2 linked regions of the Homo sapiens genome follow. The protein of the gene in region 1 interacts with the protein of each later gene in a biochemical or structural test. Each region holds a gene or a part of one and is shown in the gene's direction. Other genes may lie near its edges.

The links.
Region 2: the proteins of PRKAR2B (region 1) and CFAP91 form a complex in vitro, tested with the Homo sapiens proteins (one study listed by BioGRID).

What each region holds. Positions count from the first base shown.
Region 1 is NC_000007.14:107,047,682-107,054,704, forward strand, and holds part of PRKAR2B (cAMP-dependent protein kinase type II-beta regulatory subunit), read left to right. Parts: intron 1-7,023. UniProt on the Homo sapiens protein: Regulatory subunit of the cAMP-dependent protein kinases involved in cAMP signaling in cells. Type II regulatory chains mediate membrane association by binding to anchoring proteins, including the MAP2 kinase.
Region 2 is NC_000003.12:119,698,183-119,706,044, forward strand, and holds the start of CFAP91 (cilia- and flagella-associated protein 91), read left to right. Parts: upstream 1-4,839; 5' UTR 4,840-4,916; coding exon 4,917-5,040; coding exon of another isoform or gene 5,041-5,089; intron 5,090-7,862. UniProt on the Homo sapiens protein: Involved in sperm flagellum axonemal organization and function. May regulate cilium motility through its role in the assembly of the axonemal radial spokes.

The sequences.
Region 1 (7,023 bases):
AATAAGGATTGGAAAACAAGTCTTAATTTACTATGACACAGCACAAGACCTGCTGGGTCAGTAATTCTGAAATTTTCATAGATATCTCAAGGAAGTTTGATTCAGAAATGACCATTACCCTGTACCATTTTTGGAGAGCTTTTTTAAATAGGTTGAGATGGGACATGATATCCTTTTCTTCCCCCTCAGTAGACATCCCACCCAGGTCATTCTGATATCAATAGTTCCATGACTGTACTTTGGAAAACATTAACAGATAGTGATAATACTATATTCTTCTTAACATTTAAAACATAATTGCCGTTAGTTGACAATTGCTGTGTGCTGTCTAAATGCTTTAATTTTTTTGTCTCAGCTTTATGAGAACGATAAGGCCATCACTTGCCCAGTGTTTCACGTGAGCTGCAAAATCAAGATTGGGATACAGGTGGACCTGGCTTCATCCCTGTGCTCTTGACTGCCCGATTCTATCTCCAGATGGGGCTGGGGCTAGCATAACCTGAGTATCCCTTATATGTCAAGCTCTATTTGGGACCCTTAATGTGTTTTATTGTTAAAGCTCTGAAAAATTAACTTGTCCAAGGTCACACATAAAACGAGTAAGTAGGGAAGCCTGATTTCTTACTCTTATGTATCTAACCTTGAAGCCCAGGATGATCAGGGAGTTCTTAAATGGAATTTGTTCTGTGGGCTGACTCACAAGTCAGGTTTTCCTGTTTTTTTTTCTTTTAGTAATGCTGATGGATTTGCATTGTTGGTTCATATCCTCTCTTGTGAATGTCTTTAACGTAAGTGATGGTATTTATGAGAGGTTGGAGTTAAAAGGCAAGTTTTTGACCATGCAACTTGTGCCCATTGACAAACGTAGGACAAACGTAGGGATCAAGCATGTGACCTTGACCTTATAATGTGGTGGTTTAATCAAATAAGCCAGGCACCTGCAGTTAGCTGGAAAAAATGTTGTCTGGCCAGGGGTCGGTGATTTTTGAGGGTCAGGTGGTGTGGCTGTAGGTGGCGCTAGAGCAAACAGTCAGATGGGTGAAGGTCATCTTCTTTCCTACCTTTCCAAAGGATCCCTTCCTCTTCTAATAGCTTTCTTTTCCCTCTCCTATTCTCTTCCAGTCTTATAAATTCTAATTGTTACTTTCCATTTGCTATCAATTCTGGTCGAAAGAGCAAGCTTTAGATGTTAGAATGATAGTGGCTTATGGTGACCCTTTCTAGGGAAACTCTCAAAGGCCAGAAAGAAGCCATAATGGAAACCTCTTGGCATCTACTCTGTCTCCCTCTTCCCCGTCCTAGAGAAAGCAAATACAGTTTGACATGTCATGTCTGAAAGGGTAGCATCCCTAGGCCTTGAATTTCTTAGAAGGTTTACGGTAGGCTATAGCATTGCATCAGTACTAGTTTGGAGTAAAATCTGTGGTAATTCATGATTTTATATAGGCATCATCAAGAGATCTTGTGTTGCCCCATAATTTCTTCAGTGGAATTGCTGAAACAAAAAATGAAGTAAATACCATTCAGATTACTCTGATAAATGGACAAGTGGTCAGAAACAAAATTAACTACACATGGGCACATGCAGAGCAGTCAACCTGGGAGAAAAAATAACTACCGTGATAGAAAATAAAGAGCTGATTTTCTGAGTTATAGAAGAAAAAGATCTAGAGTTCAAAGTAGATACACATACCAAAAATATAGACTCATACCCCATAAGACAAGCATATCAAAAGTAATAAATAGAAATTTACCATGTAATAACTGTGGCTTAATCCTCTTAACTCTGTCCCATGTCCAGTCTTGTTGGAATCTTACCTACCTTTTGGTTTTTACAGTTCAAAGGGAATTTGGAGAATTTACAAAACATCCTTAAGGTCAAGCAAAATATTGTAAAGTTTATATCATTGATATAAAATCTTACAGAGTTATATACTTTTTTTTTTGCAGAATAGCAATTTCATTGTGTTTTATGGAAATGAATCCAGTATTGCACTTCTTGGCGAGGTGAAGCAGGGAATGAGCTTATGTGGCAGTTTTACTTAGGATTTAATGTTATACAGTAATAAAATCCATATCTTTTCAGCTCATAATTTGTAGCTAAGAGCTCCAGGATTTTGTAATTAATGAGACTTTATAGTTTTTGGCTATTAGAGATTTACATGGTGGTTTTAAATCCTCCTGAAATGGATTAAATCATTCATGACAATGGCTAAAATATTGAAGCCATTATTTTAGTTATGAGCATAAAACAATAGTGTCAGAAAAGATAATAAAAATTATTTTGAGTTAGAGATAGTGATTGTGATTTTCAAAGCAGAAGTTAAGAACATTATTCATTTTACTAGTAATAGTAGGTGGATTGCTTTAGGGGTTGAAATTGGGAAACCAAAAAACCCCTTCTCTTACCATCTATTACTTTGGGCTTTGGAAGAAGGGTGGTAGAGGGAGAAAGATAATGAAGTCAGAAGGGAAAGGGGGAGGGAGAGAGCAAGAGAGAAGTAAAACCAGTTGTGAAGGCTTGCTTGAGTAACTTACACTTTGAAGACATACAATGGAAACACCTAAACAGAAATTGAAGCATTAGTACTTTAATTTTTCTATCAAAAACCAAACCATTTAGCTATTATTTTAGATAAGACAGTTACCAGCTTTTTTTTTTTTTTTTTTTTTTTTTTTTTGTGGATGCACATAAATTGATGTGCTGTGTCTGGGTAGAACAGGAGTGAATATTGAATGGTTATTTTATTGTTGCAAATCTCATTCCATGGATTCCAGTAAATTTCCAGCCGTCAAGATTTTGTTAACAGCTATGTTGAAAAACAATTGTGTTTCTTTTTCAGTTGTGCAAATACAAACAGGGGACCTATGAATCCATCAATTTGGGGTTTATTTTTGACCCATTAAGAAAATCGTTTGTCAGTAGTAGTAGTAATAAAGTCCTACAGTGGAGGTTGGGGAATGATGGAATATTTTAAGGTGAGAGATTCAGTGAAGAAGACTGAAGTGACTAACTGCAGGGTCTACTTTAGAAGTGTGGAGAATCACAGAAAGTGCTGAGATCTGGGATGGCCTATTAGAAACAATGTGTGAAACTTGGAAGGTAGGATAGTTCTTATTTTAAGAAAAAAGAAATGATTCGTCTTACATTTACTCTCTTTAGACTTCATTTTTTTCTGTTTTTGTTTGTTTTTTGGTAGAGATGGGTCTTCCTTTCTTGCCCAGGCTGGTCTTGAACTCCTGGCTTCAAGCAGTCCTTTTGCCTCAGCTTCCGAAAGTGTTGGAATTAGAGGCGTGAGCCACTGCTCCCTGCCTAGACTTAAGACACCATCCTTTTGTCAGAGATGGCCTCATAGATAGTATGTATGATCAATTTTGTTAATAGATGGGGCAGGTGAGAGACAGAGAAGTTCCTTATCCAAATTTGGTAGGTTTTGGCCTTATAAATTTGAGTTTGTTCATACAACTGTTGCCAACATTTTGTGCGCTATTTATATTAACTTACATCATATGAATTTTTTCTGTCTTCCATCAAGTTGATTGATAAGGTTTAAAAGGATGGGCTAAAGAAAAGTACTTTTGTCTTCAGAATTTCCAGGTTTTTTTGTTCTTTGATTCTTTTTCAATGAAGTGAAATCTAATATTAGACTATATTTTCCTATCACTTGCTTAAGAAGAGACAATGGAAAAGAAACAAGAATGCAGTGATTTTTCTGAATTGAATGAATTGTTACTGTGTTCTTGATCCTGTTCTTGTCCTTCCTGTCTTATCTATATCATCTAGTTGTGGTTGGGACAGTCACAAAATCCTACTCTAAAAACCTCACTATGATGCTTATCATTATTTTATGAGAGCGAATTTTGTGCTTCACAAATTCAAAATGACTCAGACGGTTTCATTATGTAATTTTATGGAAAGAATTTGAGCTAAAATTTTCAGGTCATGGCTTACATGACAACAAAACAATCAAATAAGAAAATCAGAACTATAAACAGTTGGTGTAACATTTATAAATGTTTCAGCAATAGGCTCTGCCATGTGTAGCTTAATATGTTTGGAAACTAAAAAAAAAAGTCTTTCCAGTTGCTGCTGTTTAAAAATGTTTCTTAATTAAAAAAAAGACAAAAGGTCAAAATGTAAACACATGTTCCACATAAAAGTGAAGCCAAGAAGATATACTGTATACAGTTATTCCTGTATCTGTTTGACTAAGGATGACATTGTTTAATTTACATTAGCTGTTCCAAGACAAAATAGTCCATGGGAGTGATGTTGAGGGGAATTTGGGGGGTAAAAAGAGAAGGAAAAAAGCCGTTTGTTCCATTTGTTCTAATATATTTCAGTTACACCCAAAGAGCATCTTTTTCAAAGGTCATGTTGAATTAAAACATGATTCGGCTGTTTCGTTCTCATTATTATAGAAAACTAATGTCTTTTAAATGGTGTCCTTTTAGGCCGGGCACGGTGGCTCATGTCTATAATTCCCAGCACTCTGGGAGGCCGATGCGGGCGGATCACCTGAGGTCAGGAATAGGACACCAGCCTGGCCAACATGGTGAAACCCCATCTCTACTAAAAATACAAAAATTAGCTGGGCGTGGTGGCGGGCGCCTTAATCCCAGCTGCTTGGGAGGCTGAAGCAGGAGAATCGCTTGAACCCTGGAGACGGAGGTTGCAGTGAGCCGAGATTGCGCCACTGCACTCCAGCTTGGGCAACAGAGGTATACTCTGTCTCAAAAAAATAAATAAATGGTGTCCTTTTTATTTAATACTAGTTATTATTAACATTTTTGACTACTGATGTATCAGATGTGGAACAGTGCTTTACACATTGTCATCTGAACAGATGCTTTACACATATGTGATTTAGTCTTCCCCAGAGTAATTGGTGGAATCAAGGTTTGAACCTGGTAATCTGACTTCAGGGTCTTCCTCTTCAACCACGGTTTATACACTTCATTTCAGTAATTCTTTTAGCAGTAACGTGGTTGAAAATAAGCACATATCAAAAAATAAGCTACCTACTTTTCCCTCTAAAAGTTTGCAGGCTAGCCCTGCATTGATCTCTCCCTTTTACAATTTGCATTCTCTGTCTATTCAACCCAAATTAGCATTTCATGTACCTTAGAAACTCAGTACATTTGTTTATTTTATTTTATTTTGTTTTTGACAGAGTCTTGCTCTGTTGCCCAGGCTGGAGTGCAGTGGTGCCATCTTGGCTCACTGCAGCCTCTGCCTCTGGGTTCAAGTGATTCTCCTGCCTCAGCTTCCTGAGTAGCTGGGATTACAGGTGTGTGCCACCATGTCTGCCTAATTTTTGTATTTTTGGTAGAGACAAGGTTTTTCCATGTTGGCAAGGCTGGTCTGGAACTCCTGGCCTCAAGTGATCCCACCTGCCTCAGCCTCCCAAAATACTGGGATTATAGGCAAGAGCCACCACACCCAGCCTACATTTATTTATTTTAGAAATAATCACCTCATGTACTGAGCTGCTTAATTCTCTAAATTTATTTTATTATATACCTTTATTAGCAAAATATATTTGAGTGTACACCCCAATATATGTTGATAAATTTTATACATGTGACAATATATTGACTTATATGTATGATAAAGCTTCCTACAATATAAATTTTGAAAGGAGAAAGTAAAAAGCAATTCTAAGCAAGTTGTAATTTTCTCCTACATCCCAACATATAGCCTTATACACTGTTTTGGCATACATGAACCCCGTTTTGGAGACTACAGCTGTAAACAATACCACTTAAATTGATACTCTAGTAATATATAAAGTAGCCATGATCAATTTTGGTTCCCTGATTCAAGCTTCTAGATTATAAAGAGTGTGTGTGTGTGTGTGTGTGTGTGTGTGTGTGTGTGTGTGTGTCTTTTTTAAAAGACAGTCACTCGGTAAGTTAATTGACTCAACAGAAGTTGGCAGAATACAGAGGAAAATTCTATCTTATAAAAAGGAAGTAAAACTACGTTACCTGAAGGGGAAAATCCAGGCTTTTTCTTTTAAAACCTGTTTTCCTGTATATACCTTGAATTCCAATTGTATAGTGGTAATGTTTTTGGTGCAACATTTGTGGATGGGACAAAGAGAATCGTATTATAGTTTTCTGGTTAGGAATCAGTAAATTATGGAAATACCAGTCAGAATTAGAAGAAAGTCTAAAGTTTAGAATAGTTGAAAAGAAATGCAATTTCATAGAGTATTTCAGGTTATTTTGTTAGGAGAGAGATCGTTCACTATTTGCTTTCTTGTAACTTTTGAAAAATGTTTAGCATGTGCTTGGATTACCTATTAAATAAGTGTAAAAATACATGAAAGAAAGGCAATTCTTTTGTAAATATGCATTAAGTAGTAAATAAAACACAGTAGGCCGTGTGTGGTGGCTCACAGCCTGTAATCCCAGCACTTTGGGAGGCCGAGGCGGGCGAATCATGAGGTCAGGAAATCGAGACCATCCTGACTAACTTGGTGAAACCCCGTCTCTACTAAAAATACACACAAAAAAATTAGCCTGGCGTGGTGGCAGTTGCCTGTAGTCCCAGCTACTCGGGAGGCTGAGGCAGGAGAATGGCGTGAACCCGAGAGGCAGAGCTTGCAGTGAGCTGAGATCGCAGCACTGCTTGACAGAGTGAGACTCCATCTCAAAACAAAACAAAACAACAAAACAAACAAAAACCACGGTATATAGCGGCACATGACATGATTCTAAATTGATATAGCCAAATATTCTTGTCTTAAGTCATTCTCTTGGTCCTGAATTCTCACTCCCCTCTCCCTGTCTTTCTGCTAAATCTCACTCTTTTCCCAAAGGTTTAGTTTATATTTTACCCTACCAAATATTTTTGCAAGTTTCCCTCCTTGACGTTAATACTATCAATATGGTAGGATGAATATGGCCTCCATCAGTCAACTTTGCAGATGTCAAGGGTCCTCAGTCTAGGTAGGCAAGAATGTGCAGGAATATACCCTCTCTTTCTAAGTCTTTCCTGTATGTGTTGTGCTTTGC
Region 2 (7,862 bases), on another chromosome or scaffold:
AATCCCAGCTACTCAGGATGCTGAGGCAGGAGAATCACTTGAATCTGGGAGGTGGAGGTTGCAGTGAGCCAAGATTGTGCCACTGCACTCCAGCCTGGGCAACAGAGCAAGACTCCATCTCAAAACAAAAACAAAAAACAAACAAACAAAAGTATACTCTAAATTTCTCCCAAAGTTAGCTTGGCTCATGTCCCAGAATGAGCAAAGACAGCCAACCTGTGAGGCTAGAGTCAAGATGGACTCAGCCATGTCAGATTTTTCTCACTGTCATAATTTTCTCAGTTATAATCTTTTGCAAAGGTGGTTTTACTGGCCTAAGAGATATGGATGAATTCAGGGTGAACAGGACATTTGAGGTCTCTGGTCTCACAGAGCTTACATTCTAGTGGGAGGAGATATAATAAATAAGCAAATCAGTAACATTTCAGTGCTATAAAAAAAATCAAGGTAATAGTGTCTTCGGATGTGTTTATGGAGGCTGCTGGCTGTTGACTACCTTAGATAGTTTATCTGATAGAATGAGGAAAAGAAGTCTTTCTTCTTCTTCTTTTCTTTCTTTTTTTTTTGAGACAGAGTCTTGCTCTTGTTGCCCAGGCTAGAGTGCAGTGGTGCCATCTCAGCTCACTGCAACCTCCGCCTCCCAGGTTCAAGCAATTCTCCTGCCTCAGCCTCCTGAGTAGCTGGGATTACAGGCGCCTACCACCACGCCTGGCTAATTTTTTTGTATTTTTAGTAGAGACGGGGTTTCACCATGTTGGTCAGGCTGGTCTTGAACTCCTGGCCTCAGGTGATCTGCCTGCCTCAGCCTCCCAAAGTGCTGGGATTACAGGCGTAAGTCACCATGGCTGGCTGAGGAAAAGTCTTTCTGATGAGATTGCCAGAGGCGTTTAAACCTGGGCAACTCCATTTTGAGTAGGGGCTAGGTAAAATAAGGCTGAGACCTACTGGGCTACATTTCCAGATGGTTAGGCATTCTAAGTCACAGTATGAGACAGGAGGTCAGCACAAGATACAGGTCATAAAGACCTTGCTGATAAAACAGATTGCAGCAAAGAAGCTGGCTAAAACCCACCAAAACCAAGATGGCCATGAGAGTGACCTCTGGTTTTGCTCACTGTTACACTCCCACAGTAGCATGACAGTTTACAAATGCCATGGCATGTCAGGAAGTTACCCTGTATGGTCTAAAAGGGAAGGCATGGATAATCCACACCTTGTTTAGCATATCATCAAGAAATAATCAGAGCCCTCGGGGGTGCTCTGTCTGTGGAATAGCCATTGTTTTATTCCTTTACATTCTTAATAAACTTGTTTTCACTTTATGGACTCGCCCTGAATTCTGTCTTGCGTGAGATCCAAGAACATTCTCTTGGGGTCTGGATGCAGACCCCTTTCCGGTATAGAGAGAACATTTTAGGTGATGTCATATGTTGAGGAGCTAGCTGTGAGAAGATAAGGAGGTGGGAGTGAGGAACATTGAGAAGAAGAAACGAAAAGTGGGCGGCTCTGAGAACGTAGCTGTACCCCAGACAGAAAAGTACTATACCATTATTATATTGTACTTTGCTTCTGTGTCAGCTTTCTCTATCATCCAGTGAGCTGTACAAATTATCTCAAAATCTTTAACACCTATTATATAGTAGACATTCAGTAAATTTATTTAACAAAGGGATGGATTTAGTAATCATTTCATTAAGATTTCATGTACCAGATACCTCAGAGATACAAAAATGACCAGGTGAAGGGCTGTGCCCTCAGTGAACTCAAAGTTGTGGGAAGCAGAGTTGTGAACAATTACTGATTACTAATACAAGGTGGTCAATGCTATTGGTGCTACTACAGCATTGGAAGGATGATATCTCACTGTATTTGAAAGATATGAGGAAACTGCATAGAAGTGGCAAAGTTAGAGGTGAGTGTTGAAATGTACCTAAATTAGTTGAGGGGTGTTAAAGAAAAAATTATTCAATGATCTTATTAAGGCATGGACAGGCAGAGTGCGTTCAAGACCATTGCAATAGATATAGGAATTACTGCAACAGGGTCTTGTAGTTGGGGGAGGGATTGGGTTCAACTCCGAATATAGCATAAGCAAGTAGAAATTTATAGCAAAGAGCAGGCTGAGGGTCAGTGGATGAAAAATTACTAAGAGGAAATATCAGAGGTAAAGAGAATTCTGGTTAAACTCATCTCAAAGGATTCTTGCTGAAGACAGCCAGGGTAATCAGACTTCACCTGGGGGTGAAAAGCGAAAGCGAAGGATGAGGACCCCAGTCAGATATCTAGGATGGGGGATTCTTACCAAACTGACATAGCACGGTTCTTTGCTAAAACTGGATTTTACAAGAAAGTACACAGACAGACCTAGGACATGGCTGGTTTTCAAAAACCCCAAGAAGTTTAGGAGTAGAGACAATAAGTTAAAACCAGGAGTATATGCAGAAAGAGTAGTAGGCCAGGAAGCGTATTCAGGAAGTGTCTGTGGATCACATTGAGGGACTAAGTGGCTAAGTTGGCTGGACTTCCTGGTTCAATAGGGACTTCCCTAAGGGGACTTTCCCCTAAGCCAAAATGAGTCATAGCTGCAAGCTAAGGGATTGAAACTTCAACCAATCAAAGGGGACTTTCCCCTAAGCCAAAGTGAGTCCCAGCTGCAAATTAAGGGATTGAAACTTCAGCCAATCATATAGAGAGTTTAAGCTCTAGCTGCAGCCTGATGTTTTTAACCAATCAGGCCCACCAACCTAAGAGAGGAGACCACCCCTCATATTGTGTTATGCCCAATTTCTGCCTCCAAAGAAAGAAGAATTTAAAACAAAAAGGCAGAAATGAAATCCACAGGCAGACAGCCCAGCACTGTGCTCTGGGCCTGGTAGTTACAGATTGACCCCTGACCTAACCGATATGTTATCTATAGATTCCAGACATTGTATGGAAAAGCATTGTGAAAATCCCTGTCCTATTCTGTTCTGTTCCGATTACCAGTGCATGCAGCTCCCAGTCACATACCCACTACTTGCTCAATCGATCACGACCCACTCACGCAGACCCTCTTAGAGTTGTATGCCCTTAAAAGGGACAGGAATTGCTCACTCCGGGAGCTCGGTTTTCGAAGATGTGAGTCCGCCAATGCTCCCAGCTGAATAAAGCCCTTTCCTTCCATAACTCGGTGTCTGAGCGGTTCTTGTCTGTGGCTCGTCCGGCTACAAACCCACAAGTGGATAGAAAATAACCTAATCCTATGGGACAGAAAAAGGAAAAGGGGAGGAGTCATAAGGGGATATAAACATAAGATACCCAAACCAGAAATGGCAACCCTTCCAGGTTCCCTTCCACCACGTGGAAGCTTTACTTTCGCTTTCCCTTTACTTTTGCTTTGGCTTTAATAAATCTTGCCACCGCACAGTCTTTGGGTCCACGCATTTCTCTAGTGAAGCTGTAACACTTGCCACTGTGGTCCACGGCTTCATTCCTTGAAGCCTGTGAGACCATGAACCCTTCGATCGAGAAAAACCTTTGATCGGAAGAAGACTTCTCGTCTCAACATTAAAGGACAAAGAAGCCAACTCTAAGGCATGCCATTAGCTTTAATAATCTGAGTGTAATAAATAATAATGATCATAACGGATTAAAACATCAGATCTGTAAAAAATGCATGCATTCATAATGATATCAAACAAACAAAAACTTTGTGGTTAACTCTGGAGTTTGGTAGGGCACCAACTCATGTCTCTGAAATTTCATAATTAAAAAGAACAAATCCAGCATTTACCCAGTCTTTCCTCTATGAGATTATCCTGGTTATCTCAGGATAACCAATGAGTTGGTATGAAAAGATTCCTTTTATAGAAGAACCTCTGGTAATAATAGAGAATTATTGAAAGGATTAGAAATTCACTGCTCTAGGATAAAAGACTTAAGAGACATACCAAAATGCAACATGAGGACTTTTTTTGGATCTTGACTGGAACAAACCAACTATAAAAGATAATTTGGACTCAAACAGGAAAATTGGAATTATTTATAGTACTAAGGAATTATTGTTAATTTTGTTAGATATGATAACGGTAGTTAAATTTTTAAAATCTATGTCAGTTTGAGATGCAGACTAATTTAAGGGTAAAATAATATTATGTCTAGGATTTCTTTAAAAAAGAGGGGAAGGAAACTGAAACTTGATTGGCAAAATGTTGCTAAATGTTGATTCTGAGGGATGGGTTACTTGAGGGTTTGTTATTAAAAGTAGAATCACTTTTGCTTATGTTTAAAATTTTCCATTATAAATAGTTTTCAAAAGCAGAGCCAGTGCCTACCCCACATCATCTTCTGTTATTTAATGCCCAGGACTCAGAAAGGGTCAGCAGTCTCAGATCAACAGTTACTGATGTCCTAACCCATCCTAAACACTGATGCTAATGAGTGTGGGGCAAAGTTCACAGCGTGCTAAGGAGCAACATTTAGGAACCTGACTGGATTCCGCAGCTCTCGGGACAAGCCCCCTGGAAAAGGGCTGGGGGGAGGGGCGGGGAGGCACCCAATTATTCTAGAAGGTTCTGAGATCTCCCAGGGATTTCCGAGAGGCTACGAGGTGTAACTGGCAAATCAATGACTTAAGAGTAGCTTTCTCCCAGCCTCCCCGCTGGCTCTGGAGTATAGAGGGAAGCCAGCCTTTTCCTCCCCCATCCTGCCCCTCCCCTCTCTTCTCATCTTCCCCTCCACTCTCCTCCTGACCCTGGCCTGGCCACTCCTGCTTTCACTTCTCTCCACTCCTCTTCGGCCCCGCCCCGCGGCCTCCTCCCTCCTCCTTGCCCCGCCCCCTATCCCTGCGCGCCGGCGGCCGTTACCATAGCGACGTGCACGCAGTAGCCAGGCCTGACCCGCTGGTCCCTTGCTGGCGGGAGGAAAGAGGCGGCACCATGAGCCACGCAGTAACCATCGAGGAGCCCCAGGCCCAGCCGCAGGTGTCTCAAACTCGGTACCGGGAGAGGTCGCGGGCTGGGAGCCACATCTCCTCCAATCGAGCGTATGATTTTCTGTACGGTAAGGACCGCCGCAGACCTTCCTCCGCGTCCGTCGCCTCCTAGGCCAGGTGGGCTCCCAGATGGTGGGACCTGGCCAGGGGCATGGCGAACGAAACACGACCCTCTGGACTGACCTCTTGCCCACGGTTGTCCTTGGTCGGGTGGGGGCAGCTCCGAGCCCTCCAGGTGGCCGCACTCAGGTTGGGGTCGGGGGTTCGGGTACATCGAAAGGCGCGGGTGCGCTCCGCTTCGGGGGGCGATTTTCCTGAAACCTGTTCCGGGCGTTTTGGTACCCAGAAAGTGTGCAACGATTTGTACACTCGGAGATTCACTCAACGTTCCTGCATAAAATGCCCTACAAAAATGATCTTTTCTCTCCAACTCTCTGGGCAAATCCAAGTTGGGCGAAAAGAAGTGCCAGTTTATCCCATGCTTGTTTTTAGGTTTTTTGTTGTTGTTGTTGTTTGTTTTTTTTAACTTCTGCGTCAAAGCATTGCTTATAGACTGGGTCCGCTGGCTCCTCTTGGGCCAATAAAACCCCAGTTTATTTTAACGGCTTGGTTGTCCATTTTATGTTTTCTCTCTCTCCACGCTCCTTGAGTTCCTTAAGTTCCTGTTCTACACATTTTTGTAGCCTTCTGAGCACCTATTCTAGTGCTGATACATATACTAGGCGCTTCAATAAATAAATGTTTATTGAATTTGCCGTGGCAAGAACTGTAACCAGCTATAAGCATGATTTTTTCCAATTTTGCCCTCTGCAATCCCAGGTTTTTCACCTGAACCTTGCATTGCTTTCAGCAATGTGGTGTTGCCTCTGGGAATCCCAGTCTCCTTTGTGTGGGAATCTAGGGTACACATTCCTAGATAGAGGCTGTGTAATGATTGCTGACATATTCTGGCCAGTGTTTTTCTGTATTTACTCTTGGTTTTGTGAAATAAATCAAGTTAGCTCCTGTAAACACATCACCATGTTTTTTTTTCACGGGTAATTTGAGAAGGAGGACAAACATCTCCCCAAAGTATTTATTAAGCTGGTTGTTTCTTTGATGCCGAAGTGTCTCTTTTGCAGAGGAATTGCTAAATGTTTCCATGTCCCTTGCTAAGAACAGAAATTCACTCAGAGTAGATCAAATAAAAGTTTGGATTGTTATAAAACAATCTCGCCGCTAGTCATGGACAGGAAGCGAAGTATAGCCAGGGCGGATGAGAACCTGGATGGGGAAAATCAGAACTAAGATGCTGTGCTCTCCTGCTTTCTTTCTTTGACCTTATGACCTTTCACCTTGTTAGGGTTGCCACATTTAGCAAATAAAAATACAAGAGGCACCGTTAAGCTTGAATTTCAGATAATGAATAATATTTTAGTATAAATTTTTGTCCTGTGCAATATTTTGGAACACATTTATACTAAAAAATTATTCATTGTGTATCTGAATTTAAATTTAACTGGGCATCCTGTATTTTATCTGGCAACTCTAGCCTTCTTTCTATGTATAATCAAGCCCCAAGTAATGATATTTCGGTCAACAGTGGACTACATGTATAAGGATGGTCCCATAAGATTATAATGAAGTTGAAAAACTCCAATTACTTCGTGACATTGTAGCTGTCATAACATTGTAGCCCAATGCATCACTTTTTCTGTGTTTAGATATACAAATACCATTGTGTTACAACTGTCTACAGTATTCAGTACAATAACATGCTGTATGGGTTTGTAGCCTAGGAGCAATAGGCTATACTATATAGCCTAGGTGTGGAGTAGGCTATACCAGCTAGGTTTATGTTAAGTACCCTCTGATATTTACACAACGATAAGCTCACCTCATAACCCGTTTCTAAGAACGTATCCCCATCATTAAGCAACACATCTCTATGCTTGCTTCCTTCCATCTGACAGAAAGCCTCTTGTGTATGGATTTCTCTTACTATGATAGGGACTAGGGTGGCGTGCTTCTTGACTAATTAGCCCTAAAGCTCACCACCAATTGTATAGCGTCTTTGTGTATTGTAGCTGAAAATTTAAGTTAGAAATTTAAGATTGGTTGTTGGCTGGCCAATGAATTGACTGGCCTTGGGCCAGGTTTCCACCTTGACAGAACTGTGGTGGTGCAAAGATGAACACCTTTCCAGGTTCTTTTACCCTTCCTTATGAAGCCCTATGTGATTAGTTCCCTAGTTACTTCTCTGGCCTCTTATCTACTCTCTTTCCCCTCCTTCATTCTGCCTCATTTGTCCTGGTTTCTTTGCTATTCTTCAGACGTATCAGGCATGTTCCCATCCTAGGGACTTTGCTGTTCTTCAGATGTATCAGGCATGCTCCCATCCTAGAATGTTCTTCAGATATCTAACTAGCTAACTCCCTCACCTTCAAGTCTCCTTACATGCCACCTTCTCAAGGGCCTGCCCCGACCACCCTAGTTAAAATTGCAACCCAATCTTCCTTACCCGATTTCTTCTTTTTTAAAAATAACAACCCTCAAATTCTAATGTGTAATTTGCTAGTTTATTATGTTTGTTGTTTGTTGTCTCTCTCTCATGAAGTCAAAGATTTTTGTCGTTTTGTTGATGTATTCTAAGCACCTAGATAGAGTAGCCAGTCAATAAACATGTGTTGAATGAAGGAGCAAAAAGAGCCTGAGCCTCTTGCAGCTTTTCAGCCTTGGTGGGAATATCCAATGTCTGCATTCAGTAAATCGTATTTGTTGGGTTACTAATGAATTATTAGGTTTTAGGAATTGACACACATTATCCAAATTCAAAAGAGACTTGTTTCTAAATCACAATTCCCAAATTATTAATTTCTATGGAGAAATATGTGTTACCATGTTATCTAGA